Linked DNA regions of Homo sapiens. The protein of the gene in region 2 interacts with the protein of the main gene of each other region in a pairwise test. Each region holds a gene or a part of one and is shown on either strand. Other genes may lie near its edges. The genes, in order: SACM1L, DHRS7 and TMEM120A.

Region 1 (10,033 bases), on a different chromosome or scaffold from region 2:
ATTTTAAAGCCAGAAGAAGGAATCTGTAAATCGTACTACCATTTTCTTCTGCCTGTGTGTGATGGTTCTAAACCTGGCAATCCAAATGCACTTTTTAATTTGTTACACAATAATATAGTAAAACCTCTTGGATAGACATTTGCTCAGTTTTCAAAAATATCTTTTTATATACATTAGGTAATCAACTACAGTTATTTAAATCTGCTTTTTTTCTGTGACGTTTTGCCATGAACACAGAAGGGAAATTGACCTCCTGTTGTTGGGCAATTAGAGAAAACATTGGCTGGCCCTGGCATGTTGTTGGAGGAGGTAGTTCCTTGGGTTCACCCATTAACTGCTGCCGTACAAGAGTGTAAGAAAGAAGGAGAGTTGACTCCAGAGTTTGTGTTCGTTGCTGTTCACTGTGGTCCACAGGGAGAGCAGAGCTTTCACTGGTGACTTTCAGATGATCTCTCGAGACTTTTTTCTAAGGGTTTTGGGGGTAGTGGGAAGAATCTGGGCTTTGGGATCCAACACACCTTGGTTTGAATTTAAGTTTTTCTCTTAGTAGTAATATGACCCAGGGCCACTTAGTTATCTTCAGACTTCGGTTTCTTCATTTGTAAAGTGAAGATGATAACTTACTGTATAGTTTAAGCGATAATGTTTATAACATATCTAGGATTTTATAAGTATTCATGGGGTACGGACACACACACCCTTGCACACACATATATATGTACACCAACTCTAAACGAACCTTACCAATTCTGCATGATCCATATGTAGATTTTTCATCCTAACACATTCTTCCACGCTTTTGTTCCTGAGGTCATGATTTGTATTTAGCCCTTGATGAATCTGTTGCATTTTCTTCCTCCTTTTGGATTTTGGAGAATAGTTTCAATAGTTAACATTATCCAGTATTCGTTGTTTGCTGTGTTCCATACACTGTGCTAAGTACTTTATGTGCATTATGTGTTATCTCATTCAAACCTTAGAGAAGCCTAATGGTGGTGCTGCTGTTACCTCCATTTTGTGGATGAAAAAGCTTACTATTTAAAGTTCTAGAGTTAGTAAGTTGCGTATGATGCTAAGGCTAGCAAACAGATAGTTTGCTTCCTGCATCCATATTCTTAACCACCACACTGTGTGTTGTCAGATTTTTGAATTCATAGAATTATCAAGGAGCTTGTTAAAGAAAACATGGGAACTGGTAACTGTGGTTGGTTGCAGTGCAGACATCTGGATGTTTAAGGGGAGGAAGGGAAACTGATTTTTCAAATAATACCCAATTGTTCTTTATAAATCTTGTACTATTTGCATGTATTACCCATTTAAGAATTTTTTTTTTTTTTTTTGGCTGGGGGCTGTGGCTCACGCCTGTAATCCCAGCACTTTGGGAAGCCAAGGCAGACGGATCACCTGAGGTCAGGAGTTCAAGACCAGCTTGGCCAACATGTCAAAACCCTATCTGTACTAAAAATACAAAAATTAGCCAGGCATGGTGGTGGGTGCCTGTAATCACAGCTACTCAGGAGGCCGAGGCAGGAGAATCACTTGAACCTGGGAGGCAGAGGTTGGAGTGAGCTGAGATCATGCCACTGTGCTTCAGTCTGGGTGACGGAGGGAGATTCCATCTCAAAAAAAAAAGAAAAAGAAAAAAAATATTTTTAAGTATTTAAAAAAAATTTTTTTTAATTTAGATACAGGATATCGCTCTGTCACCCAGGCTGGAGTGCAGTGGTGTGATCATAGTTCACTGCAACCTTTAACCCTTGAGCTCAAGTGATCCTCCCACTTTAGCCTTCTGACTACAGGTAGGCACCACCATGCCTGGCTACGTTTTTGTTCTTTTAGAGGCAGGGACTCGTTATGTTGTCCAGGCTGGTCTCGAACTTCTGAGCTCAAGTAATCCTTCCACCTCAGCCTCCCAAGTAGCTGGGATTACAGGCACGCACCACCACGCCCAGCTAAAAGTATTTTTAATGCAAAATATTCAATCCTTGCCTCAGAGATTCTGATTCAGTTGATCTCAAGGCCAGGAATCTTTTTTCACAAGCAACCCAGAGGATTCTAAAGATAGTATATGAATCATAAAGCCCTGACATCTAGGGATATAGTTGGAATAATTATGTTAGAGGAAACCCTCATCTGGCTTTGGGAAACATGATTGATTTGCACAGCAACCTTTTTAATACTCTTAACTTTACTTTTTCACATCTTTGGGGTGAGATGATCTCTAATCTTCAGCCATTTTTTGGATGGAGGGCTGTCTTGCCTCAGCCATTTAGACTTCTTTTTGGTCTAGGATAATCACATATGCCTGACCACACATTCCTGTCTGACCTTTTAATTTACAGTTTTTAATAATGTCACTGAAATGAGACCCATGTTATAAGAGTTAAGTCCTTAGTAAATCTGACCTACTTTGGTATGAGAGTGTTTATACAAATATGTTTTAGTTATTTTCTAGTGGACTCTGCTGGCCAGGTGGTGGCAAACCAGGAAGGCGTGTTCCGAAGCAATTGCATGGATTGTCTAGATAGAACCAATGTGATCCAGAGTTTGTTAGCTCGTCGTTCACTTCAGGCCCAACTTCAGGTGCGAATGCTTTTTTTTTTTTTAATTGAAAAACAACACAGCAAAAAATTAAACATCTTTAAAACCCAGTAACAAAAAATATTCACATTGCCCACACCCTAACCCAGCTCTTTTTATTTTTGTGTCTTGCCCATGGATGTCACATTTTCCATAACTAGGGTCAGTCTGTGTATGCACAGTTTTCACTTTTGCCATTTTCCCTTAGCATTTATGTAATCACAGTTTCTGGTGGTTGTATTGTTGTGCCGTAATTTACTAAGCCATTCAGATTGCTACATTTTTGGTTTATAAATAACACCGTAGAGAATATATCTGTATATGTTATTATTAACTTGAATTATTTCCTTCATGTTAATTCCTAGAAGTGGAATTACTGGGTTAAAGAGAATAAATATATTATTTTCCAAGAGCGTCATACCAGTTTACACTGACACCAATAATGAATCAGTAAATCCATTTCATTGAACTCTTCCCAGCATTTGATATTTTAATTTTTTTTTTGTTTTTCCTTGAGAAAGTGTCTGGCTCTGTTGCCCAGGCTGGAGTGCAGTGGTGCAGTCTCGGCTTGCTGCAACCTCTGCCTCCTGGGCTCAAGCCATCCTACTAACTCAGCCTCCCACAAAGCTGGGGCTACAGGCATGTGCCACCACACCTGGCTAATTTTTGTATTTTTTTTTGTAGAGACAGGATTTCACCATGTTGCCCAGGTTGGTCTCAAACCCCTGGGCTCAAGCAGTCTACCTGCCTCAGCTCCCAAAGTGCTGGGATTACAGGCTTGAGCCACTGTGTCTAGCCTCTTTTTTTTCTATTTCGTTAATACAAAAGTAGCACCTCAAGATTGTTTCTATTTATCTCTCTCTTATTACTAGCAAGGAATATTGACTCCAAAGTAAAAAGTTTCTGACACAGCTTTGCTTTACCACTAGACTATGCTGTTGAGAAAAATGGTTTTTTTCTTCTGTGTATATTTGGAATGAAAAAGATGTAGAGCCCCAATTTTTAAATCACATTGGCATTTGTTGTGAGGGGCAGACAAAATGCATACCACATGGTTTCCTGTTCAGGTAATTAGTAAGCATTCAGCTTTATTTCTGACAATTGTATGATACCGAGAAAGAAATTATGGAGGTAAAATACCCCCTTCAGAATGAATTGTTCTTGAATCTTAAAGTCACACCTGCCAGAGGAGTGCTGTCCCTGTTGGAGTAGTCTGTAGTTTGTATTGTGCTATGTCCTCGTCTGTTGGAAGGTCTTCTAAGTGTAGTTTTTAATAGAAACAATATTAGGAATGGTTTGGTTCCATGGCTGATTAACCAAAACTTACTTGACTAGGCTCTGCAATCCATATTTTACAATTTTACATGCTATATATAGTATTATGAAACCTAACCAACCTGCAGAGAGTGGGGGCAGGAGCCTCTCCAGCAGCTTTGCCTACTAGTGTAGGGGCTGTCTACTTGTGCCTCTCCAAGTCTGCCAGTGAAGGCAGAGTTCTTACCCAGCTAAAGGTCACCAAGGTGGCTCCTGTGCTGTGTCTGAGGGTGGGAATGACTCCTTCTGAGGTGGAGATGAGGTGTCATCTGAGGTAAGCAATGAAGATGGTGGTTCTCAGAAGTGATGGTCTGAGACAAGGCAGGGACTTGTCATCTGTGGTTGGTGGTCTCCAAAGGGGAGTCTATAGAGGGGATTCAGGGGGCCCAGCAACCCTGGGATATTCTATGTCTGTGTGTGTGCACTTTTGGGGAGGTAGATTAGGTGGCACTCATCAGATTCTTAAAGGTCCCTGGGACAGAGGGTAAGGCTGGGGTGACTCAGGGGTGAAGAAGTTGAGGGATGATGCATGTGAGGGGGTCTCAAGGGGTAGAGGCAGTAGAAGACTGGGGGTAAGAGGGAGGGAGGAAGTAGCGGCTGGAATCCTATAGCAGCTTTCACTCTCTCTTCTGACCCTCTCCCTGAGTATAGTCCTGCTGCTATCCCTCAAGGGAGTGCGGGGGCTGCAAGGCAAAGGTGCCCTCAGGAGAGGCTTTGCAGTCTGCCCTGGGCAGGAGAGGGCTGCTGTGAGCTGGGGCCCCCTATAGACAACAGACATTTCTGGCCTGCATCCAGCAACCAGGCACCATGAGATAAAATTTGGGGACTGCTTTTTCTTCCTAAACCATGTCTGCTAAAATCTATTACACATAAATCTGGGTGTGGTTTTTTATTCCAGAGACTAGGAGTTTTGCATGTGGGACAAAAGCTTGAAGAACAAGATGAATTTGAGAAGATTTACAAAAATGGTAGGTCATTTCTTTAATATAGACAAAGTTGGTCAGATTTTGAAATAAATTAATATTCTGGATTTAGAACTTTGTTTGTCATCTTAATAATTATCAGCTGTTTTTACTTTTTTCTACAGCCTGGGCTGACAACGCAAATGCTTGTGCCAAGCAATATGCGGGAACTGGTGCCTTGAAGACTGACTTTACCAGGCAAGCCATGCTTTTAAAATAGCATTCCACATCAGTAGTTCACAGTCCTGGTGCTTTTAAAAATCACCTGGGCAGCTTTCAGACAGCAGCAGCAACAACAGCAAGACTCCAGCATCTGGGCCTCACTTGAGACCTGTGGAGTCAGGATTTCTGGGAAGTGAGGCCCGGGTACTGGTGTGTTCTTAGCCACCCTGGGAGATTCTGATGCTTGGGGAGGGTTGAGAGCCACCGCTCCACAGTGCTCCTCAGACCTTACCGTGTACCTGAAGCACCAGTCTTGAGATGTGCTCTAAAAAGCACCCAGGTGATGCTGATGCTGCTTTCAAAGACTGCACTGAGTAATGAGGACATTAATGAGAACATTTTGAATGTATTATGCATGCAGTGGCTCTTTTTCTGCTATGTGGGTTCCCTGGGAGCAGAATAAGATTTCTAGTCTGTTTGCTTTGCTGTGTCCTACCACTTAACCTGGGCTATGTATTTCTCTTCATATTTCTTGTCTTTGCAACTGGAATTAGTGTGTTTCTTTGTGCCTCCTTTGGTAATATTTTAGAAAGAAAATAGGTATTTCTTGGACCTACAAGTGATTTCTTTTGTGAAGTATCTGTATTTTCAGGGATAGTTTTTAAAATCTGTCACTCACTTATTTCTATACCTTATGCTTATTGGCCATAAAACAGTGTGAGAATTCAGTGTACAAACCTGTAACTTAAAATTTAACCTCTTTAACCAGAACTGGAAAGAGAACTCATTTGGGACTTATAATGGATGGCTGGAACTCAATGATACGATATTATAAGAACAACTTTTCCGATGGATTTAGACAAGTAAGTTTGTATTTGATGCTTTCCTGGCATTACGTGGTTGTATCTTTGCATTGTTCATCACTAATGTTATCTCACACTGAGTTTACGAATTTCTTCCTTTCTGTTCTAGGATTCCATAGACTTATTTCTTGGAAACTATTCAGTGGATGAATTAGAATCTCATAGTCCTTTAAGTGTTCCAAGGGACTGGAAATTCCTGGCTGTAAGAAACCATTTTGTATTTTTCAAGTTTTTAAAAGCATTGTGTCTGAAGGTATAGATGGTTTCAGTCTCAATTTAAAACGTTATATGTGGTTTTATATTTCATTACATGAAATATAAATACTTAAGTTTTCCAAAGAGGTCAGGCTGAGGAGTACAGTAACTGTGGAGCATTTGTTTTCTTTTCCTCAGACTCTCACACATCCTTTTCATGTGAAGTAACATAAGCAAAGGGAATGTGGAAGCTTTCTCATTTCAGGAAAACTTCAATTCTCTTACATTGAGGGAATTGCCAGAGACAAACGTGTTACATGGAAGGCAAAGTTTATTTTTGATGCTTCTCTCCTTTTTGACTCCTCTGTTCACCAGACCCTGCAAGAGCCGCTCTGGATTTTCTTTCCAGTGTGTCAAGTGCTCTGGAATGGAAGGGAGGCCTAGTGTTCTAGGTCCTCATCTGGGCATCCTCCTTCCATTTAGCACCCTTTGGCTTGGAGCAAAAGCATGCTTCTTCCGATCTTACCACATCCCCCATCTAAAGTCTAGGGCAGTTGTGATTGAACCCATAAATAATAATGTTTTGTTGACAAAAGATATTAGCTGTGTATTAGCTGACAGATGAGTTTTATTCTTTTCCCAAGCAATGCATGCACAACTGATTTTGCTGCCATTGATTAGCATTCTTAAATGATGATCTCTTTCTATTGTCTTTTCCAGTTGCCTATTATCATGGTTGTTGCCTTTTCAATGTGCATTATCTGTTTGCTTATGGCTGGTAAGTCTGCTCCACACATTTGTTTCTTAGTTAGAATGTTGACCTTTCTTTTACAACATCTTAAGTTTTTGAGTTCACCGAACACTTGATGTTTCCCTATTAAATTTAATGGGTAAAGTGGATGTGACATTAGATTGTCATTAGATGTGACAGGAAGAAAAATAACATACCTAGTAGTTTGATGGTTGTCGTTTTTTTTAACCTCAGATTTTAAAAACATGTTTTTCTTATTACTGTAAACCAATGAGTGTCTGAGACAGGTCTCAGTCAGTTTAGAGGCTTAATTTGCCAAGGTTGAGGACCTGCCCAGGAAAAAGAGACACAAGATACAGTAGGATCAGTATCTTGTGCTTTTTCCAAAGAGGGTTTTAAGGACTTCAGTATTAAATGGGGAAAGAGTGTACAGGAGAGGAAGGAGGAATGGAAACAAAAGGGGAGGGTAGGTAGTAAGATAAGTGGTCACATTCTTGTGAGGCTTTGATTAGCACTCACTGAATCCATGTTACATGTGAAAGGACGGGGTAGAGGAACAGTCAATTATGCATTCATCTCCTGCTCAGTAAATCTGCATTTTATGTAAGACAAAGTAAACATAGAGTAGATAAAGAAGTCAGATCTGCATTTGTTTTGGGGTGGGCGGAGGGATGATTTTCTAGTCTTGTCTTTGTCCCATACCTGTGAAAATAAACTGTTAATTTACATTGTCAGGGTGAGGGAGATTCAACAGGACTGTCTTTTAGGGTAAAGATTTTGGGGCCCACAAGGAATTTGCTTGTGACAGTTTGTGAGGGTGGCCATCTGTGAGGATATGTGGCCCACTATCTTTGCAGCTGTCTACTTAGGAACAAAAGGAGGGTAGTTTTGTGAGACTCAGTTCCCAAGTTTAACTTTTTCCTTTGGCATAGTAAATTTGGAGTCCTGAGATTTTATTTTCCTTTCACATTACCAAAGTAATACATAGTAATTATAGAAAGCACACGTAGGCAGAAAAGGAGAAAATATTATTTATCATCATACCTTTGAGAGAGAAGCTAACCACTCTTAACATTTTGATGTTTTAATCTTTATAAGTGTCTGTGATTTTTTTTCAAAAGTGAGATACGTATTTTCATTATCTGCTTTTTTTCACTGAGCAGTATGTTTTCCCATGTTCTTAATTGCTAATGGCTGCAAAGTATTCCATTTATGGATGTATAGTTTAACCAACTCAAATAAATGTTAATGGATTAAGATATTACTTATCATTACATTTTAAAGGTTGAGAGTAAAATTGCCTGAGAACCTGAGGAGACAAGGTCTTTACTGGTTTTCTTTTTTCTCTTAATATTTTGCTATGTTACTGAGTTAATAAAGCATTTAAGATTAAAGTGAGAAGAATGTATTCTTTATTCTCCTTTGAGTAATGTCCTGTAATTTGGAGGTTTGAGTCTGAGACTTGGTGTATTGGACGTTGGAGATGCAATCCTAGTCACTCTGAAAGAAGAGGCACCTTCCAGCCTTCATCCTCTATCCTGAATTCGTTGAGCCAACCTCTCTCTGCCTGTCTGAATTCCACCATCCTCAGGGCACCATTCATATGCTCCCCTCTCACAGAGTGTCTCTCCCACACAGAAGTCTTCACCTTCTGTCTGGATTTCCACAGCACTCCTGGTCCTCTCTCCCAGCACTTTCCTCTTTTAACCTCATTAATACATAGGGAGTTATTTTTCAGAGGTGGTATACCTCTTTGGTGTACCTGACATACCCAGTGTGTATTTCTTTTTGGATGGTAATGATTTGCATACTTGTTTGTTTTTTTCACTGGATCAGCAACTTTTTGAAGGTAAAGACTGTGTCTTACTCATTGTTTTATCTCCTTTGTCCAGGATATAGTGAGCCCTCAGTAAATGTTTGCTGAATTAAGGACTCACTCCACCACCACCACTAATTCTGTCACCTTTTTGATAGGGAGGCTCAGTTACCTGTTCATCTCTGTATTCCCCTCAGTGCTCAGCCCTGTAGACAGTCGTGACATAGTTTTAACTAAATGCTGAAATGTTGAGTAGGGGGAAAGAAAGAGCCATCTTATTATTATTATAGTTAGCAAAATTTTTCTGTAAAGAGCCAGGTAGTAAATATTTTTGTCTTTATGGATGGCTGTACATTCTTTGTTTTTGTGTTTATAACCATTTAAAAATGTAAAAAGCATTCTTACCTTACAATACAAAAACAGGTTGAAGCACAGGTATTGCCTGGGACATGACTGCAGGTTTTAGGGCAGGAAGGAAGAGGCAGCATGTGCCGGTTCCTCAGCGGCCAGCCCTGCTTTCATTTCCTCTCTGGGTCCTCTGCCTTCTTTCCTGAAAACACTGCCCAGCGCATGCCATTTTTGGGGAGCCACTCTACTGTTAAATTAGTTCATTTTGTTGTTGTGACTATACCCACATTTACTTAAAGAACCTCTGGAGAGGCAGGAAAGTCAAGACCAAGAACTCTGCTTGAATGAAACGGATGATTCCTTTAGGGAGTGTCCAGCAGAGTGGCTAACAAGGAACTGCCCTTCTTCTTTTGTCCAAGAAGAATTTTAAACTTCAGAGCCATGAAAATGAGCAATTATGCAAATTCGAGTATATTTTGAGTAAAAAGAGATTGGATGCTGTGGATGGTAACTTCTCATGTCAGTTTATTCTTATGATAAACTTTGTGATGTTTGGTTATGGTAATATCTGATTTCTAGCTCCTGCTGTGGTTTTCAAAGAGAATAGAAAACAAATGTAGCATGATCTCTGAGGGCTTGTTAGGAAGGAGTCTGGATGCTAGTTTCTTCCGTGGTGTGCTCACTGGCTGTCATTCCCTGTATGTATTTCTCCTTCTGCAAATGAGGCCAGTAGTGTTGCAGAGAGAGAAGCTATTCTCTAGGTTCAGCTATTCAAGGAGTAAAACAAAGTAGATCTTTGCCCACCGGCTTGCTGCTAACCTTTATGAACTTCGGACTTTGGAAAATGCATATCAGCAGAGTTGGGTTAAATATGTCATTAAAATAGGTTATTGGCTGGGTGCTGTGGTGTGTGCCTATAGTCCCAGCTACTCAGGAGGCTGAAGTGGGAGGATCACTTGAGCCCAGGAGTTCTGGTCTGTAGTGTGTTATGCTGATCGGATGTCCGCACTAAGTTCAGCATCAATATGGTGACCTCTTTGAG
Region 2 (10,729 bases):
GCAGAACAGAACAGAACAGAAAATTTCACAATGCTTCTTCACACAATGCCTGGAATCTATGGATAATACAAGCAGTTAGGTCAGGGGTTGATTTTTAACTACCAGGCTGGAGGTGCTGCAGTGGGCTGTCTGACTATTGATCTTATTTTTGCCTTTCTGTAACTTTTGAATTCTCTTTCTTTTTCTGAGGTATGAGACAAGGAGAGGGGGTGGTCTTCAAGTCAAGGAGGGGGACCTCAGAGGAAACCAGCCCTGTCAGCACCTTGACCTTGAACTTCTAGACTCCAGCACTGTGAGAAAATAAATTTCTGTTGTTTAAGCCATCCAGTCTGTGATATTTTGTTATGGCGGCCCTAGAAAATTAATATATTAATGTTTATTTTGGATATTGAGGTCTCTAGACACTAGAAATCAACATCAAAATTCTTACCAAATGAAGGTAATGACCCTGGACTCTGCCTGAGCACTTCTGTCTCCAAGTAACAGGCCTCAGTGCTGTGCTTGGGCTCCTGGCCCACAGGTTAGTGGTTTTCACCTGGACCTCAGGTTGGTTGCAGAGGCAGGCCACATCCTTAGGGTAGGGGATTTACCTATGGGGGCACAAATACATTCCTTAACATTTCTCGTAAGCTAATTTTAGTGGGTCTCTGCCATTTGCGATTGAGAGTACCGACTGATTGAGACATTGGTACCCAGAAGTAGAGTGCTAGAAATGAAATATCCTAAAATGTGAACTACTGTGTCAAGGTGGAGTAGGAGGCAGTGAGGCTCTCTCCATCTCCCTCCATCCCTGGGTGGGAAGTGGGCAGTCTTTATGATATGGTAATGAAGCAGCTCATTAAGATGTTATTGTAGTTTCTTTGGGATTCAGACCTGTACATACTAAGGTAGAAGCTTCAGGGAATCCAGCAGAACAAAATTAGGCTGCTCTGGTGTGAGAGGCAGTATTATATGGTGGTTCAAGAGCAAAGACTGAAATTAGACTACCTAGGTTCAAAGACCCTGTCTCCTAGCTGTGTGACCTAGGGCAAGTTACTTAATCACAATTAAGCTTCCTCATCAGGGAAATGGGAATTAAAATAGTACCTAATTAACTGGATTATTGTGAAGATTAAGGGATTTAATATATATAAAGCACTTAGAATAGGCCTGGCAATTAGAAAGCATATGGACAGGTTAACTCTTGTTGTCTTGGTTACTTCTTGTGGCTCCTGTCAAGATCCTACTAGAAAGAGATAAGCCTTGGTCTTAGATAGCTGGGAACAGCATACGGCTTTGTTAAAAGAGATCACGCTCCTCACTGCTCTCATGCCCCATCTCAGCAGACAGCAATCCAAGACTGCTTAGGGTTCGGAATTACAAAACCAAATTCCCTGCTAAGGCTAAAGTTGATCTGAACAAAAGTAAGGGCAAGGCAAAGAGAATAGACATTAGACAGGGACCTGAAAGGATCCAGAAATGGGACTTTACATCCCACAGAGGAAACAGGTAAGGTGTTTCCATACAGTGACAGAGAATAGATCAGTGGCTGCCTAGGGAAGGGGTGGAGGATGGGTGGATTTCAAAGGGTCACCCCTTTTGGGGGTGATTGAAATGTTTACCTTGATTGTGGTGATGGTTTCACAGGTGTATATATTTGACAAACTCATCAAGTTGTATACCTTAAATATGTGCAGTTTCTTGTACTCGAATTATACTTTAGTAAAGGTATAAACAAGAGAGAGCAAGAGGTAGAAGCTGCAATAGCTTCTGTGACCTATCCTTGGGAGTCACACACTCATCATTTCTGCAGCATTCTGCTGGTTACAGTGATCAACCCTGATACAACCTGGGAGGGAAATACATGGTGGTTTGCACACAGGAGGTGAGCATTGTTGGATCCATCTGGGGGATTTCTGGCCATCCCTCTATGTGGAGAGAACAGTATGTACAAGGCCTTGAGGTGGGCTGGTATTCCAGAAAGCCTTAACTGATTAACTCTACTCACCTCTGCTGAAAAGTTGACTGTTACTTGGTGCAATGGTTTTTTTTTTTTTTTTTTTTTTTTTTTTGGTTTCTTTTGTTTGTTTGTTTTGTTTTTTTAAGACAGGGTCTTGCTCTGTTGCCCAGGCTGGAGTGCAGTGACACCATCAGTCTCGGCTCACTGCAACTTCTGCCTTCCAGGCAGTCTCAAGCAATCCTCCCACTTCAGCCTCGGTGCAATGTATGTTAACATATCATCTGTCACATCTTCCAAAATTTGAGTCCCAGGTTCTCCAAAACTTCAATGGGTTAGTTAGACTAACCACTTTCAATGCCTAAGTGTTCTAATATGTCAAGTTCTCCTCTGACCTTATGCTTTGGTTTATGAAGAGTGAAATTATGAGGAGTGTCAGCATGTTTGCAAGCCAATGGGATGGAGTATGATTTAAGAAGCAAGAAAGAATTTTGTTTTTCTTAAATCTGAGACCATAAATTTCTGTTCACTCTGCTTATCTCCAAGGCTGGTCCTGGCTGGAGAGGGGAGAAAAAAGAGAAGGAGAGGAAAAAGCATTGATCAGTTTTAGAATTTTAAGAAAATATTTGCATATTTTAAGAAATTTAACCTAATTTTTTTAACTTTTTACTTTAAAATGATTATAGATTCACAGGAAGTTGCAAAGATGGAACAGACGTGTACTCTGTACCCCGTTCTCCCCACTAGTAAATTTTACATAATTTTAGAACAATAACAGAACCAGGGAATTGGTATTGGCAAAATCCACAGACCTCGTTCAAATTTCACCAGCTTTGCATGTACTCATGTGTGCATGAGTGTTTGAAGTTCTAGATTAGAATAACAACCACCACTACTAAATCATGGACAAGATATATAAAGGGAAGTTTGAAACAGAGCATTTAAGGGAGAGAGAATGAGAGCTATAAACTGCTTATGTTTAAGAGACCCAAGATACTGTGGAAATTGGCTAATCTAAACAAAATATCAATGCACTGATATGGGGAACTGCATGTGGTGAACAGTGCAGTGAGATATTCCTATTGAGGGATCCCATGAGATTACTAAAGGTAAGAAAGTAAGTTATATTTTCTTATAAATAAGACTCTAGGTAAGACCTTGTCTGCCTGAAGAATATCAGAAAACTAGACCATGACCTGAACGCTTGTAGCTGGGGTACAGCCAGGCAGGTGTAAGCCAGAGCTTGTGGAGGGAGGCTGCTAATAGATTGCAGAGCTCCTCTCCACCGTGGCCAGGTTGCAGGATTTCTGAGTAAGGGTGCTGTGAGCTTTTGGGGCAGGGCAATTCTTTGTTGGGTATGTCTTTACATAGTGCCCAGATCGTTAGCACTCTGATGACACCCTGGCTAGCTGGCACTATGGCCACTGTTCATCCAACACATTTCCAAAAGCATCTAAGGGATGTGAAAACATCCTCAATCAAAAACCACAAACCCCTTATTGTTCTTGAGGAAGAATATTCCCTCCCTAGATTCCTCAGTCCCTGTTTCCACTCACAGTTTCCACTCACTCTTTTTTTCCCCCGCCTAGGGACTGCCGATCTTGGAGGATCTGGATTTTTAAAGTTATTTTTGTATAATGCTTTTGTTATGGAAGATGGCAATTGCTTACGCACAACTGCCTTCATCTTAGCTGACCTGAATGGGCCTTAGCTGCCATGAATGGGCCTTAGCTGCCATGAATGGGCCTGACCCCAGACCATCAAAAGTGACCATTACTAAAAGGAGGGAAGGCAGGGTACCATTCTATTACATCTGGAATTAAAAATGAAGGTTACCAGTTATAGAAAAGACTTTCGGACTTTATTCAAAGCATTTTAATAATACTTAGAGAAGATTGATTTATTAAATGCTAGCAACTCTCATTTTAACATTAACTTCCGAACTTCAAGGAGGTTTTAAAAAATTGAATTTTAATTTTTAATTTTTGTGGGTACACAGTAGGTGTATATATTTATGGAGTACATGAGATACTTTGATACAGGCATACAATGTGTAATAATCACATCATGGTAAATGGGGTATCCACCCCCTCAAGCATTTATCCTTTATGTTACAAACAATCCAATTATACTCTTCTGGTTGTTTTAAAACATACAACTAAATTATTATTGACTATAGGCACCCCATTGCACTATCAAATACTAGGTCTTATTCATTCTTTCTATTTTTTGTATCCGTTAACCATCTCCACGTCCCCCCCAACCCTCCCACTACTCTTCTCAGCCTCTGGTAACTATCCTTCTACTCTCTATCAAGGAGGTTTAAATTTCAAGGAAAGGAGAATTCAATCAACGTGGGCTTATTGCTTCTCATGTCAACACTAAGCTATGTATTCCAGACTCTTCAAAAGAAGCATCAGATTTGCTACTTTATTTCAAGGATTCTAAAGTTCCATTGGAACAATACTATATTAACCCTGAAAATAATTAAAAAACAATTTCAGATATAGTTCAGAAGTAATTGTGAAAAGAGGTGAGATTAGGGAAAGATGACTCTGAGTCCAGATAACCCCAAAAAGCTTTTTAGAGAAGGATGAGGGTGGGGAGGCAGGTAGGGGGTTTATAATAGGATTTAAAAAGAGAAGGAAGAGCTATTTAAGGAAATTTGATTACTGCAAGTAACATTCTTCAAAACATTTAAAGAAAAACAAAAGTTTGGCAGGCAAGACTAGAAAAAGAAAACAACACTGGGGAGGGAAGTCACTGCTTCTTTTATTTCCATGACTGTTTTAAAGTCATATTTAGTTTCAGCCAAGGAAGAGCCTTTGACATCAGAGCACACAAAGTACTCTAGGAAATGAAGAGGATGAAAGTTCTACTGCATCAACGCCCAGAACTTTCTCCATTTGGCCACAGGTCGTTCTCATACATGGCCTAGTTTCTATGCACTCTAACTGGGTCCCTCTGAGGCTTGTGAATGGAAAACCCTCTTGCTTTCAAATGCTTGAAAACAAGAAAGATGCTACTATTGATGCCTCAAATACATGTAGGTATTTAGTGGGAAGCAATTAAATGTTTTGAAGGTCATTTCAAACGGAAATTAATCAAAAACAGTATTTTACTCTTTTGTGTATTAGAGTAGGCAAGACCTTGGTGTTTTCATTACATTCTCTGTTTTTATTTGCTGTTTACATTAGGATGTGAATAATGGCTTGGGTAAGGGGAGGATTTGGTACCAACCTAGGCTTTGGTTGCCAAACAGACACCAGAGTAAATTTGTGTGTGGTCAGAATCAGGTTGTAAGGTGCCAACACAGCACATGGCTTCAGTCTTTTTTTCTCTAATTGTAAAAGGACCTTGTCCCCATGGAGGGACCATTGCCTTGGCTTGTGGGGTCTTGAGTGATAGCCACAGTCTTTCTTCAGCACTTTCTCGACCTCATGAAAAGATACTGAAGCTTGAAAAGGGGATGTTCTTTCTGAATAGGAATGGAGAAGAGGGGCCAAGCAAGAATGATTCTATCTGTCTCCTGGCCGTTGATAGTGTCCCTGTACAGAGAGGAAATAACGTAGTATAATATGTAGCTTATGTTTGAATCAGCTTCTTTAAAAATACTGGAATTTTATTTATTTATTTTTGGTAGACACAGGGTTTCCTCATGTTGCCCAGGCTGGTCTCGGACACTTGAATTCAAGCAATCTGCCGGCCCCGCCGGGTGTGCCGCATGAGGGCGCGGGCCGCCCAAGGACCGCGAGTGGGGCCGCGAGTGCTGAGCCCGGCGCGCCCGAGCCGCTCCTCCTCCCGGCCTGCTCCCTGGGCGGAGCCGGGGCAGTGCGGCTCTGGGCTGGCCGAAGGGGTGGCGCTGCGATCCCGCAGGGCAGCGACGCGACTCTGGTGCGGGCCGTCTTCTTCCCCCCGAGCTGGGCGTGCGCGGCCGCAATGAACTGGGAGCTGCTGCTGTGGCTGCTGGTGCTGTGCGCGCTGCTCCTGCTCTTGGTGCAGCTGCTGCGCTTCCTGAGGGCTGACGGCGACCTGACGCTACTATGGGCCGAGTGGCAGGGACGACGCCCAGGTGAGGACCGGCCAAAGCCTCTCCCGAGTGGGAGGCCGGGCTCGGAGCTGCCGAGGCGTGTCCGGGTCTCCGGGGGTTCTGCAGTGATCCCGGGTCCTTTGTGGGTTGCGTGGAGCTTCCCGAAGGCCCGGCTGCCCCTTACGCAGGGGCTGCGGGTTGGGGAGGAAGAGGCGAGGGCTAAAAAGCCCCTTTGTCTTCTGTACTGGTCGGAAGATGGCATGGACTTGCCATTCAGGCTAGGAAACCTCTCCAGGGAGTGCCAAACTGTTAAGAGAGCACTGGAGTCGGCGGTGCTCCTGAGGACTCTGACATCTTACGCAGGACTCAAGGGATTCTGGTGTTGTCTCAGAGGACGATACTTTGAGAAACAGTGAGCGTCCCCCTGCGTTTGTAAGGGAAACTCCTTTGTAAGTACCGGAAGCCCGGTCGTTCTACTACCTGAAGTAGTCTGTCCTCCACTTCCCACTCCTGCAGTTTTGAAATAAAATCTGAGATAATCCGAAGTCCTTCACCTACTTACTCATTCTAGTCAAACACTAGAAAGAACTAAAAATGGCAGTTTGCTGGAGCGAGATCATTATTGGCATACTGCCTATCTCACTTTATCTGTGTCTTGCTTAATATTTGACATCGTGTACATTTGCTGTATGTTGGCTCAGCGCTTTACACACATAACATTTAACTTTTACAACAACTCTTACAAGGTAGGCATTATTAATCTTATTTTCCAGATAGGGAAACTGATGTTCAGAGAAATTAAATGACCTACCGAAAGCTAGGCTTTGGATCCTTAAGGACTTGGGGAAATGGGGTTTCCCTGGACCAAGTTTCTGGTATAAAAATACTCAAAGCATGTTACAAAGTTTGCTTGGAAGAGATAGTAGCTCGAAAGATAGACTATGTTTGGGGGGGGCGTTATGGGTTGGGCGTTGAGGGGGGTGATATTGATCCCAAGGTGAGAATTGGTTCCTGTGGACAAAAAAAAAAAAAAAAAAAAATCTGGTAATACAGTGGTTTGTGCCCCTCCAAAGCTTAACCCCACCCGAGAAAATATTATTCCTTAGTATTTCATTTTTCTGGTTGGGTTTTCTTGGGTATAGCATGTGCAGCACTGACATTGAGTTCACGAAAAATACACAACATGGACGCCACAGCAGTGCTACAAAACTATGGCAAGTGATTGGGCTTTCTCCTTTTAAAGCAGGAATCCCAAATACTGCACAACTTCATTAACCAAGGGCTTTCTCTTGATCGATTGTTCCACCTCAGCGGGGGAATATGTGTGCCTATTGGCTGCCATTGGCTGCCTTGCAGACGTTGTTTGTGTTTGATCTTTAGTGCTTTTGTGTTCACTTGGACTTGGAGAATTAAACGAAAATAGATTATATTTTATTATTTAATCCTACAAAAAATATTCAACCCATCAAATTATGTCAAGTGCTAAAAAGCAAAATTATTGACAACATCTGAATGAATATCTCTAAGCTACTAAGTTAAAAGTTATTTTCTCATATTAAGGAAAAGTTAAAAGTTAAGATCATTGAAAATTTTAAGAAATTCATTTAATATTTTCAGTTGTGTTTTGTCGGAAAAGAACAGTTTGAAGGATTTTAAATTTAATTACATTGTTATCATTATGTAGTTATATAATTTGCAAATTTGCACATGTAGTTTGATAAATTGCTATTTATCTAAGTAAGTTACATAAAAGTTATTCAGCAAAAATCTGGCGTGGTGGCATGTACCTGCAATCCCAACTACTCTGGAGGCTAAGGTAGGAGGGTCATTTGAGCCCAGGAGTTCAAGACCAGCCTGGGCAGCATAGTGAGACACTGTCTCAAAAACCATAAAAATGTTTTTCAGCAAATACAGTTATAAAGTTAGAAGTTAATAACTTTTAAATTTTAATTTAACATTTAACTTAATTTTAAAATTTAGTCATATGCTTATTTAGTCATATGCTTATTAACTAAGGAGTAAGCTTTTTTTCTTTTTCTTTTTTTTTTTGAGACAGAGTCTCGCTCTGTTGGCCAGGCTGGAGTGCAGTGGTATGATCTTGGCTCACTGCAACCTCTATCTCCTGGGTTCAAGTGATTCTCCTGCTTCAGCCTCCCTAGTAGCTGGGATTACAGGTGCGTGCCACCACGCATGGGTAAGTTTTGTATTTTTAGTAGACCTGGGGTTTCGCCATGTTGGCCAGGCTAGTCTCAAACCCCTGACCTCAGGTGATCCACCCCGCTCTGCCTCCCAAAGTGTTGGGATTACAGGCATTAGCCACTGCGCCTGGCAGGAGTAAACTTTATAGAACTCCTTTTATGTATAAAGCACAGATATATGTACAGTACATAAATGATATACAGTATATCTGTGGAATTAACATTTCACAGGAGAGTTTTAGGGGAAAAAAAAGTCTAAAAAGACTCCTGGTGGAGGTAGGGAGTGAGAAAGAAGAAAAGATTAAAGGAAAATTGAAATAGACTCAGATTCCCAAAACAGCTCAGACTGGAGAGATGGGCAGACTCTATCAAGATGAAAAAAGAAAAAAAAATCCTTCTTGACTTCTCTGTAGGTTTATTATTTTTTGTCACTTAAAAAAATAGCACACTCACATAATACAAAAGTAAAAATACAAAAAGATATATAGTAAAAAGTAAAGAGCTTTCTCTGACCCTTGTGCCCTAGCTACCTAGTGTGCTTCTCTCGAGGCAGCCACCATTTCCTGCCTCCTCTGTATCCGTCTAGAGAAATTCTGTGCATTTCCAAGCATATATCTCACATGGTGATTTTTTTTTTTTTTTAATAGAGAGACAAGGTCTTGCTTTGTCACCCAGCCTGGAGTGCAGTGGCATGATCATAGCTCACTGCAGCCTCGAACTCCTGGGCTCAGGCAATCCTCCCACCTCAGCCTCCCCAGTAGCTAGGACTACAGGTGCAAACCACCACACCTGGATATTTTTAAACTTTTTGTAGAAACAGGCTCTCACTATGTTCCAGGCTGGTCTTGAACTCCTGGCCTCAAGTGATCCTTCCACCTTGGCCTCTCAAAGTGCTAGGATAACAGATGTGAACTGCCAAGCCCAGCCACATATGGTGAAATTTAAGGGTGACTAATTTTAGACATTAAAATGGTCCAGAAAAATCCATGGCACAAGTCTAGAGGAGGAAAAATTTCAACAGCAGCACATGTGAGCAAAACTCAGGTTTTTGTTAACAGTAACCTCAATAGGAGTCAACTGTGAAGTGGCTGCCAGAAAAGATCAGGCAACCTTGGGTTGCATTTGTAGACCTCAGTGTCTGAAGCAACAACTGCAAACAACAGATGTCTCCTGACTAGCTGCTTGTATGTGCCGGCCTCTGTGCTGGGGCACTGGGGACACTGCAGTGACTGAATCAGCCACAGTCCAGGCCCTCATAGACCCTACCTTCTGGGGGACAAGGGAAGTGATTTTTGACATCTCATCCTGCTCTGCACTGTCCAGACCCTACCGAATCCTGTGTCCTGCCCTAGCCAGCTCCCTTTAATAAAGAGGAACATTAACCAACTAGAATTGGTGCAGGTGGGTGTGAGCAGAAGAGTGAGGAAACCTGATACCATGTCATGTGAGGGAAGGTGGCAGAAATTGGATAGGTTTATTTAGCCTTAGAGAAGGTAAGAGATGAAAGGACTTAGGGAAGACATAATGGCTGTCTTCCCTAACAGCTGTGAGGGATTGTCATTTAGAAGACAGGTTTCATTTCTTTTCTTTTCTTCCTGAAACAGCTTTTTGTAAAACAAGAAAGCAGAATTGCAACACAATTTAAATGTCTGTCTAGGTCACAAAAGGGATGCAAAATGTTTGTAATATGATTAGTATGTATTCATATAGTGAGTCATTCTTACACCTATACATAAGATTATTCCATGATTAAAGGTAGCCCAGCTCTAATAACCATAAGCTATATTAGTGGATCCCTTTTCCTATTATAACATTTTAGTATTACTTCTGATATTGATTCCCTTAACAAATGGAGTCTACAAACTGAATTTTAAAAAATTGTTAAAAGTGACTAAAACTCTGTAAACAGAGGAGTTGAGTTTACAAAAAATTCTGGGAGAACAAGCAGGATAAAACTGAGCAAGATTATCAATAAGTGTACATCTGAAACTCCCATTTTTCACAGTTCTGATACTAATACATTCTTAAGGAATTTTGCAAAAGTTAATCTGCTGAGTAGAAATATACCTTGAGACCAAACTCTTTGTAACTGTTCTCTTCCAGATGTGGTACATAAGATTAGTCAAAGTTGGCCAGATGCGGTAGCTCACGCCTGTAATCCCAGCACTTTGGGAGGCTGAGGTGGGCAAATCGCTAGAGCTCACAAGTTCGAGACCAGCCTAGGCAACATGGCAAAACCTCATATCTACAAAAAAATACACACAAAAAAATTAGCCGGGCATGATGGTACACGCCTGTAGTCCCAGCTACTTGGGAGGCTGAGGTGGGAGGTTGGCTTGAGCCTGAGCCGTGGAGGTTGCAGGGAGCCAAGATCATGCCACTGCACTCCAGCTTGGGTGACAGAGCCAGGCCTTGTCCCCTCCCCCCGTCCCCCCGCCAAAAAACAGGTTAGTCGAGCTTAATCTACTCTCATATATTTCCCAAAAGATCTACTCTGTGCCAGAGATAACAAAAATCTGGAGTGAAAATATTTGGAGTTGGTTACTAGTATTTTCCCAAGTACTT
Region 3 (9,862 bases), on a different chromosome or scaffold from region 2:
GATGTTTTTGGGGGAAGGAGAGGGACAAAGAATAAAACTCGTTGGCCAGTGGCTTCGGTTGTTGCCCCCATGTGCACTTTGGGGGTGAAGTTGTAGGCTAGAAAGTCCTTTTTTTTTTTTTTTTTTTTTTTTTGAGATGGAGTCTTGTTCTGTTGCCCAGGCTGGAGTGCAGTGGTGCAATCTCCACCTCCTGGGTTCAAGCGATTCTTGAACCTCCACTGCACCCTCTGCCTCCTGGGTTCAAGCGATTCTCCTGTCTCTGCCTCCCGCGTAGCTGGGATTACAGGTCCGTGTCACCATGCCCGGCTAATTTTTGTATTTTTAGTAGAGACAGGGTTTCACCATCTTGGCCAGGCGATGTGTGGGGTGGTGGTGGGGGATGGGTGGTTTACGATTCTTCCTCCAGGGCCTGTTCTGACCCAGCGAGGACATAGTAAGCCTTTTGACTGCACAGCTCTGCCCCTCACACCACTTTAAAAAAAATTGTGGTTAAAATATACATAACAGGCCGGGCGCGGTGGCTCACGCCTGTAATCCCAGCATTGTGGGAGGCCGAGGCGGGCAGATCACCTGAGGTCAGGAGTTCAAGACCAGCCTGGCCAACATAGTGAAACCCCCTCTACTAAAAATACAAAAATTAGCTGGGCGTGGTGGTGCGTGCCTGTAATCCCAGCTACTCTGGAGGCTGAGGCAGGAGAATCGCTAGAAGCTGGGAGGCAGAGGCAGCAGTGAGCTGAGATTGCACCATTGTACTCCAGCCTGGGTGACAAGAGCGAAACTCTGTCTCAAAAAAAAATATACACACACACACACACACACACACACACACACACACACACATACACACACACACACACACAACAAAAAAATTACCATCTTAACTATTTTAAAATGTATAGCTTAGGAGCATTAAGTACATTCACATTATTGTACAACTAATCTCCCAAACTTTTCCATCTTGCAAACCTGAAACAGCAACTCTTTACTTTCCCCTCTTCATCGCCCCGTGGGAACCACCATTCTACTTTTTGTCTCTGTGAATTTGACTACTCTAGGTACCTTATATAAGTTCCTTCCTTTTAAGGCTGAATAATATTCCATTATATGTGTGGAATTCACCAATAAACCCATCTAGGCTGGGTGCTTTCTGTTTTGGAAGGTTACTAATTATTGATTCAATTTATTATTGTTATTTTATTTATTTATTTTTTTTTGAGACGGAGTCTCGCTCTGTCACCCAGGCTGGAGTACAGTAGCACAATCTCGACTCACTGCAAGCTCTGCCTCCCGGGCTCATGCCATTCTTCTGCCTCAGCCTCCCGAGTAACTGGGACTACAGGCATCTGCCACCACTCAATTTCTTTAATATATGTAGGCCTATTCAGATTGTCTGTTTCTTCTTGTGTGAGTTTTGGCAGTCTGTGTCTTTCAAGGAATTGATCAATCACATTTGTGGATATGAATATTCTTCTATTATCCTTTTAATGTCTGTGGGATCTGTAGCAATGTCTTCTCTTTCACTTCTGTATTAGTAATTTGTGTCTTCTGTTTAAGTTAGCCTGGCTAGCGGTGTATCGATTTTATTGATCTTTTCAAAGAACCGGCTTTTGGTTTTTTTGATTTTCTCTATTGATTTCCTGTTTTCAATTTCATTCTTTGCATGGCGTATCTAGTTTTCCTAGCACCATTTGTTGAAATGACTGTCCTTTTCCCCCATCGAATGGTCTTGGCATACTATCAAAAATTCCTTGACAGGCCCGGTGCAGTGGCTCACACCTGTAATCCCAGCAGGTTGGGAGGCAGAGGTGGGCAGATCACCTGAGGTCAGGAGTTTGAGACCAGCCTGGCTGACATGGCAAAACCTCGTCTCTGCTAAAAATACAAAAATGAGCCAGGCGTGGTGGCACATGCCTGTAATCCCAGTTACTTGGGAGGCTGAGGCACAAGGATCACTTGAACCCAGGAGGCGGAGGTTGCAGTAAGCTGAGATTGCACAATTGCACTCCAGCCTGGGCAACAGAGTGAGACTCAGTCTCAAAAAAAAAAAAAATTGCTTGACCATATAGGTAAGGGTTTATTTCTAGGCTAGGCTGGCTATTCTATTCCACTAGTCTCTTTGTCTTCATGTCCATACCATACTGTTTTGATTACTGTAGTTTTGTTAGACTAAGGTTTGAAATCAGGAAGTGTGAGACCTACAACTTTGTTCTTCTTAAATATTTTTTATGGGGTCCTTTGAGATTCCATATGAATTTTAGGATGGATTTTTCTATTTCTACAAAAAATGTTGTTGGGATTTTGATAGGGATTGCCTTAAACCTGTGGATTACTTTGAGTTGTATTGGCATCTTAATAATATTAAGCTTTCCAACCCATGAACACAGGATGTCTTTTCATTTGTTTGTACCTTTAATTTCTTTCAGCACTGTTTTGGAGTTTTCAGTGTACAAGTCTTTTGCCTCCTTGGTTAAATATTTTATTCTTTTTGATGCTACTGTAAATGGAATTGTTTTCTTAATTTCCTTTTTGAATTGTTTAGTATATAGACATGCAACTAATTTTTGCATGTTGGTTTTGTATCCTGCATCCTTGCTGAATTTATTAGCTGTGTGTGTGTGTTGTGTGTGTGTGTAATCTTTAGGGTTTTCTACATATGAAATCATGTCATCTTCAAACCAGAGGTAAGGTTACTTCTTCCTATCCATTGTAGATGCCTTTTATTTCTTTTTCTTGCCTCATTGTTCTGGCTAGGACTTCTAGGACTATGTTGAACAGAAGTGATGAAAGCAAGCACCCTTGCCTTGTTCCCGATCTTAGAGGAAAAACTTTATCTTTCGCCATTGAGTGTGATGTTAGCTGTGGGCTTCTCATATATGGCCTTTATCAGGTTGACATCACTTCCTTCCTTTTTTGTTTTTGAGACAGAGTCTTGCTCTGTCACCCAGGCTGGAGTGCAGTGGTGCAATCTCGGCTCACTGCAACCTCCGCCTCCCAGGTTCAAGCAATTTTCCTGCCTCAGCCACCCAAGTAGCTGGGATTACAGGCATGTGCCACCATACTTGGCTAATTTTTGCATTTTTTTAGTAGAGACAGGGTTTCGCCACATTGGCCAGGCTAGTCTCGAACTCCTGACCTCAGGTGATCCACCCGTCTCGGCCCCCCAAAGTGCCAGGATTACAGGCATGAGCCACTGTGCCTGGCCATTTCCTTCTGTTCCTAGTTTTAGGCACCACTCTTGCCTTTCCCTTTTTCGTTTGTCCTCAATCCAGATGGAGACCAGGTGCTCACCCTCCTTCATGCAGCAACACTTCCTGTACTTTAAGGTGGATGCCTGAAGGAGGGCAGCTTGAATTTTCTTCTTCAGAGAATTTGCCCACAGTTCTCTTCCTCTTTCCATTAATTTGTCCAGTCACAATGCAAACCTTTGTTGAGACTGCACTAGGCTTGGCATAGTGTTTGCCATCCACAGGTGGTTTCATGTATATTGTCTTAATCTTCCCAGAAGCTGTTTGAAATAGGAATTATTTCTGTCACCAGATTTAGAAGCAGAGGGGCTTGCCCAAGGCAGAGTCAGCTCCCATGACTCCCAGCACTGATGCATTCATGCCAGGCTGCCCTGTTTCTGCATCCAGCCCTTAAGCCGTGTTGCTGGCACTGTGCAAGTGCCTCCTGTCTCTGAAAGCTGCCTCTGATCCAAGTGGAAAGGGCCCAGGACCAATCGTGAAGTTCACTTTCTCTCTTTGTATTCATAGAGGTCCTGGGCCTATGTCAAGAAGTGCAAAAACAACATGTGTCCAAATCGGGGATTGGTGAGCCAGCTGCTGGAATGGGAGAAGACTATCCTTGGAGATTCCATCACAAACATCATGGATCCGCTCTACTGATCTTCTCCGAGGCCCACCGAAGGGTACTGAAGAGCCTCACCTGGGGGCATTTTGTGGGTGGAGGGCCAGAGTGTGTATACCCAGGCTTGTCTGGAAGGAGAAGGCCTTTGCTGCCTGAAAGTCTCATGTTAGCCTCCTGTACTGATTCTTCCCAAGTGCCTGTTCACGCCACCTAGCTGATGCGCCCTGCTCAGGTTCACCAAGAACCCGCATCCCTGAGGTGTCGCGGGCCATCCCAACTGCACCCCTGAGGCTGCCTCTGGAAGAGCATCTGGCTGCTAGAGCAGCTGCCCTGCATCCCCCTGGTGACTTAGACCCTTTGGAGGCTGCCTGGGGGTACCCAGAGGTTGCCTGTGTTGGTTCACAGAGGATGTCACAATAGCCACCAATAGGCAGTCCCCTAGTCCCAGAGATACCAAGCCCAGCCTTGTCTAGCCCCCAGGCTCCTAGAATGGGATCACACCCTTGCCTCATCCCCAGCGCTTCCTGCCATCCACCCCTTGAAACAGATTTTCTTTCCCTGCTCCCCACTCATTTCTGCCTGGCTGTGTTCACCAAGGAGAGATTCTCACCCCCTCCCCCATCTCCCTATCCACGTTTCTAGAAATTCCTAAGGTCTTAAAAGTTTTCCTTTTTTTTACCCCCTTTCCTTTTTTTTGGAGGCACGGTCTTGCTGTGTCTCTCAGGCTGGAGTGCAGTGGCGCAATCATGGCTCACTGCAGCCTCAACTTCCCTGGGCTCAAGCGATCCTCCCACCTCAACCTCCTGAGTGAGTAGCTGGGAATGCAGGCATGCACCATCACACCTGGCTAATTTATTTTTATTTTTGTAGAAACAGGGTCTTGCTCTGTTGCCTAGGCTGGTCTCGAACTTCTGGGCTCAAGTGATCCTCCAGCCTCGGCCTCCCCAAAATGCTGGGATTACAGGTGTGGGCCACGGCACCCAGTTGGAAGTTGTTTTCCAAATGCACTTCTCCAAAGCTGGCAGCACCCACAGAACAAACTGGGCATCAGGAGACGGCACAGACTAGGGGACTGGTAGGGGATTAGGATGTCCATCCATGCAGGACCTTCCCCAAGTCCATTCGGCAACCATTCCCTGCCACCGCGTGGGTGGGGCTGGGAACAGAGAGATGAATGCCGTCCCACCACTTAGCGCGCTCTGTGGAGGGATGGGGGTGGGAGGGGGTGGGGGATTCCCCTCAACAGAAGGGCAGGCCTTCAAGGAGGAGTGGGGTTTTGCCAGAGGGGGAACGGCTTTACACACAGCCCTGGCTTTCCTCAGGGTGTGAGTTGGGACAGAGCCCGGGATGGCTGCAGAGCTCCGATTAGGGACCTCCTGGTAGGCAGGACACAGCCGCTGGAAAGTTTTAAGCATGAACATGATGGGGAATCAGCCTTGTGTTTTGGGAAGGGCAGTCCGGTGGCCGCGAGAAGGGACAGTGGAGGTGAGGCAGGGAGAAAGGAGGCCGCTGTAAAAATCCAAGCGAGAGAAGCAGCTCTAACTCCCTTCCCCAAAGAGGCTCAGCTTCCCAAGGACGAAAATGTTGCAAGCAGGTGTCACCTCCCTGCACCTTGGTTTGCTCTCAGCATGACGGGCCAGAGCCCTGCTGGCTGCACCACGCGGCTGGCACAGTCAGTGCAGTCCAGGCCCGGGGGCTGCAGCCGTCCCAGTCCCGGTCCAGGCCGCGAGTCCCGGGGCTAGCAACCGCCCTTGCATACGGCCCCGCCCATACCCCGCCCCTGTCCCGGATTGGCTGGGGTGGGGGGCGTGGCCTTTCCCCATTGGTGCCCGTGGCGGCGCGAGCCCGGAAGCGGACGGGGGCGGTGGCGGAGGAGCCTCGGGTGGGCCGGGGTTGCTGCGCCGTCCTCCACTACTGGCTACTGGCGCTGCAGCCATGCAGCCCCCGCCCCCGGGCCCGCTGGGCGACTGCCTGCGGGACTGGGAGGATCTACAGCAGGACTTCCAGAACATCCAGGTTAGCGCCGCTGCGGACGCCGGGTCGCCCCCGAGCCGCGTCTCGCTGGCTCAGGGTCAAGGGTCGGGCAGCCCTGGGTCAGGCAGTGGGGAGCTAAGGGTCAGGGGTCGGGGCCCTGGCGTCACTGCCAAGGGGGGCGAGGCCCCTGGTCCTGGTGTCCACTGCCACCACCTCCAGTGTCCGGGAACCCCGGCGGGACCCCATCGCGCTGGGCGACCTCGGCTTCCAATGAGGGCCTTGGAAAGGGGCCCAGACCCCGACCCCGTCCCTTCCCAGAAGAGAGCGGCCGCCTGAGTCACACACGGGCGGGCCCAGCCTTGGGTCAGCCACTCAGCAAACGCGCAGCGGGCAGCGCCCGAGAGGCAGCCCAGGTCGGGGGAGCAGCGTTTAGGGGGGTGTCCTCGGCCTGGATGGGGGACGCCCCAGGCAGAGGGATACCGCGCGCCGCCGAGGCCTTTGGAAGGAAAGAGGGGACTTGACAGGCCCATGTGGCTGCATCAAGGAGAACCAGGGGAGGGGTGGGACGGGTGGGAGGGGTGGGCGGGGCTAGGCCCTGCAGGGACGCTCTGGCCTGGCAGAGATCAGAGTCCCTCCGAGGCCAGTGGAAAGCTACGGGAGGAATTGTCTGGACTGAGCTCCCCAGGGCCACCGTGGCTGTTCTGTCCAGAGGCCAGGGAGGAGGAGGCTGTTGGCCTCATCCAGGCAGGGAAGAGGGCGGTGGCTGTGGGTGGGCAGAAGTGGCACGTGCTGGGGTCCGAGGGGGCGTGGTGACCCCTCCTGGGCATGAGAAACAAGATCCAGACAGAGTAGAGCCCTGGCCAGCTGATGGCTTGGTTAGCCCTTGGCCTCTCCTGGACTGGTTCCAACTGCTTCCTGTGGGCATTGAAACCCAGCTGCCCCTGGCCCTGCCAAGGCCCCTGCCATTGGTGCTTCTCCCCAGAGACTGAGCAGACCCAGTCTCCCCGCCTGGCCGCCGCTGTCCTGGCCACAGCCCCTGCTTGGCTCTCCTCACACTGCCCCTTGCCCCATCTCTAGGCTGCGCCTTCTTGAGACTCACCTACCAGGGCAAAGTGCTTGGGGAATCCTTGGGCCAAAGGTGCTAGGGGAAGGGAGTGGGGCTGGCCTTAGAGCAGGAGGCTCTAGGGTTGAAACCTGATGACCTTTAACCTGGGAAGAAGATGTCAGGGATTCCTGAGAACCTGAGCTCCTCCTGTACTGGAAGGCTAGATAGGCAGGAGGAGCTGAGAGGATAGAGGGGTGGCTCTGGGCTGCCTGCTTGGTCCAGGAGGTGGCCCTGGGGGCCTAAGCTCCAGACTCAAGGTAGGAGAAAGAGTCTGTCCTTGTAGGGTGGGGACAACTAGCAGATGGGCTGAGACTAAGAAAACCTTGGCTGGGTGCGGTGGCTTATGCCTGTAATCCCAGCACTTTGGGAGGCCGAGGCAGGCAGATCACCTGAGGTCAGGAGTTCAAGACCAGCCTGGCCAACATGGTGAAACCCTGTCTCTACAAAAATACAAAAATTAGCCAGGCATGATGGCAGGTGCCTGTAATCCTAGCTACTTGGGAGGCTGAGGCAGAAGAATGGTTTGAACCCGGGAGGCGGAGGTTGGAGTGAGCTGAGATCCTGCCATTGCACTTCAGCCTGGGCAACAGAACAAGACTGTCTCAAAACAAAAACAAAAACAAAAACACCTAGTCTGTTTTTGGAGGAGGGGTGCTGTGGGGGTCTCTGGGCTCACAGGAGGACACCCAGGTCCTTGCCTGCCTTGGGGAGACAGCCACCTCATCCCTGGGCAGGCACAGTTCTACCTCCTTTCCCGCTGAGCGAAACCCTCCCAGCAGCCCTGGGGGAGCCTGAGCGCCACGTCCTGCCTGCAGGCTCTGGCTCAGTAGCTCCCCAACTGGCCTGAGCCTCTCCCCTCCGGCCCCCAGGAGACCCATCGGCTCTACCGCCTGAAGCTGGAGGAGCTGACCAAACTTCAGAACAATTGCACCAGCTCCATCACGCGGCAGAAGAAGCGGCTCCAGGAGCTGGCCCTCGCCCTGAAGAAGTTAGGATCCCCTACCCCACCCGCCATGGGCAGAGTGTGGGGTGGGAGGGCTGGCGCTGTGAGACCCTGGGCACCGCCCCTCCCCTCTCTGGGCCCTGTTTGCCCTTCTGCCCCTGTGGGAGTCAGGGAGGACACTTGGGAGTCCTCTTGCCCTGACTGTTTCTGGCCTTACCCGCAGATGCAAACCCTCCCTCCCAGCAGAGGCCGAGGGGGCCGCACAGGAGCTGGAGAACCAGATGAAAGAGCGCCAAGGCCTCTTCTTTGACATGGAGGCCTATTTGCCTAAGAAGAATGGGTGAGGGCCCCCACCGCCACCCCCAGCTCAGTTCACAGCCACTCCTGAAGCCGGGTGCTGCCTCCTCTTGGTCATTATAGTCAGCAAATGTTCCCTGGGCCCAGTACAGGCTGAGCAATGAGGCACAGTGCTGACTTCAGGGGAGACACCTGGCTGAGAGTGACATTTCACTGTGATAGGTGCTTTGTAGCATGGGGAATGAGGTGGCACAGTGAGGGACACCTGACCCAGTCCAGGAGGTCGCAGAAGGCTTCCTGGATTAGGGGATGGGTGGGCTGAGTCTTACAGAATAAAGAGTGGGCCGGGCGTGGTGGCTCTCACCTGTAATCTCAGCACTCTGGGAGATGGAGGTGGGAGGATCACTTGAACTCAGGAGTTCAAGACCAGCCTGGGTGACATACTGAGACCCTATGTCTCTATTTATTTAAAAAGAACAAATAGGCTGGGCGCGGTGGCTCATGCCTGTAATCCCAGCACTTTTTTGGGAAGCCAAGGCAGATCGCTTGAGGTCGGGAGTTCAAGACCCGCCTGGGCAACATGGTAAAACCCATCTCTACTAAAAATACAAAAATTAGCCGGGCATTGTGGCATGCACCTGTAATCCCAGCTACTTGGGAGGCTGAGACAGGAGAATCACTTGAACCCGGGAGGCGGAGGCTGCAGTGAGCTGAGATCGCACCACCGGACTGTAGCCTGGGCAACAGAGTGAGACTCTGTCTTAAAAAATAAATAAGTAAATAAATAAAAAAAATGAGGCAGACACATGGGCTGAGGGCGAGAGGTAGCAGCAGGTGGACGGGCCATGAGAACTTGTAGTGGCCAGAGGTCGGGGCGGGAGGTGAGAGGCAGCCAAGAGATCAGAGGCTTTGCTGGGCTGCAGCTCTTGCCTTGAGCCCAGTAGGCGGGCGGGGGCGGTGGAATGTGCACCTGGAAAGGCCAGCAGCTGTCACCCAGGAGGACGGATGGGGCAGTGCAAAACCCCCTGCTGAGCAAAAAATCCCAGCAGAGGCTGCAGGCAGGGAGATAGCTGGGAGAGGGCGTGGCCCAGAAGGCAGGGAGAAGAAAGGAGTGTCCGTAGCCTGGGGTCAGTCCTGTGATAAGGAAGGGGATGCGCTTCCTGGAAGTTGGGTCATCTTGGCAGAACCATTTGGTGGAAGGGGATGGATGTCGATCTTGGGGATGACAGAAGAGCCAAGGAAGGGAGACAGCCAAGTCTAGGAGACTTTTTTTTTTTTTTTTTTTTTTTGAGACAGAGTCTCACTCTGTCGCTAGGCTGGAGTGCAGTCACTTGATCTCGGCTCACTGCAACCTCTGTCTCCGTGGTTCAAGCGATTCTCCTGCCTCAGCCTCCGGAGTAGCTGGGATTACAGGTGCCCGCCACCACACCCGGCTAATTTTTGTATTTTTGTATTTTGTATTTTTAGTAGAGATGGGGTTTCACCATGTTGGTCAGGCTGGTCTCGATCTTCTGACCTCATGATCCACCCGCCTCGGCCTCCCAAAGTGCTGGGATTACAGGTGTGAGCCACCGCACCCAGCCCTCTGGGAGACTTTTTAGAGCTTGGCTGTGAGTGGAGGGAGAGAATTAGCAACTAGGAACTGGAAATTAGCACTGGGTTGAGGGGCAGCTACTGCCTGTTTGTGGGGTTACTTT

The links.
Region 1: the proteins of DHRS7 (region 2) and SACM1L interact in binary tests that used the Homo sapiens proteins (3 or more experiments, as listed by UniProt).
Region 3: the proteins of DHRS7 (region 2) and TMEM120A interact in binary tests that used the Homo sapiens proteins (3 or more experiments, as listed by UniProt).

The regions. Positions count from the first base shown.
Region 1 is NC_000003.12:45,732,791-45,742,823, forward strand, and holds part of SACM1L (phosphatidylinositol-3-phosphatase SAC1), read left to right. Parts: intron 1-2,444; coding exon 2,445-2,583; intron 2,584-4,792; coding exon 4,793-4,862; intron 4,863-4,981; coding exon 4,982-5,054; intron 5,055-5,787; coding exon 5,788-5,881; intron 5,882-5,990; coding exon 5,991-6,083; intron 6,084-6,796; coding exon 6,797-6,854; intron 6,855-10,033.
Region 2 is NC_000014.9:60,160,456-60,171,184, reverse strand, and holds the start of DHRS7 (dehydrogenase/reductase SDR family member 7 isoform 1 precursor), read left to right. Parts: upstream 1-5,786; 5' UTR 5,787-5,875; coding exon 5,876-6,008; intron 6,009-10,729. UniProt on the Homo sapiens protein: NADPH-dependent oxidoreductase which catalyzes the reduction of a variety of compounds bearing carbonyl groups including steroids, retinoids and xenobiotics.
Region 3 is NC_000007.14:75,990,490-76,000,351, reverse strand, and holds the start of TMEM120A (transmembrane protein 120A), read left to right. Parts: upstream 1-5,756; 5' UTR 5,757-5,781; coding exon 5,782-5,862; intron 5,863-7,794; coding exon 7,795-7,913; intron 7,914-8,091; coding exon 8,092-8,208; intron 8,209-9,862. Other genes in the region: STYXL1 (serine/threonine/tyrosine-interacting-like protein 1), read left to right, coding at 3,753-3,884. UniProt on the Homo sapiens protein: Multifunctional protein involved in mechanosensation, and plays an essential role in lipid metabolism and adipocyte differentiation. May function as a potential ion channel involved in sensing mechanical stimuli.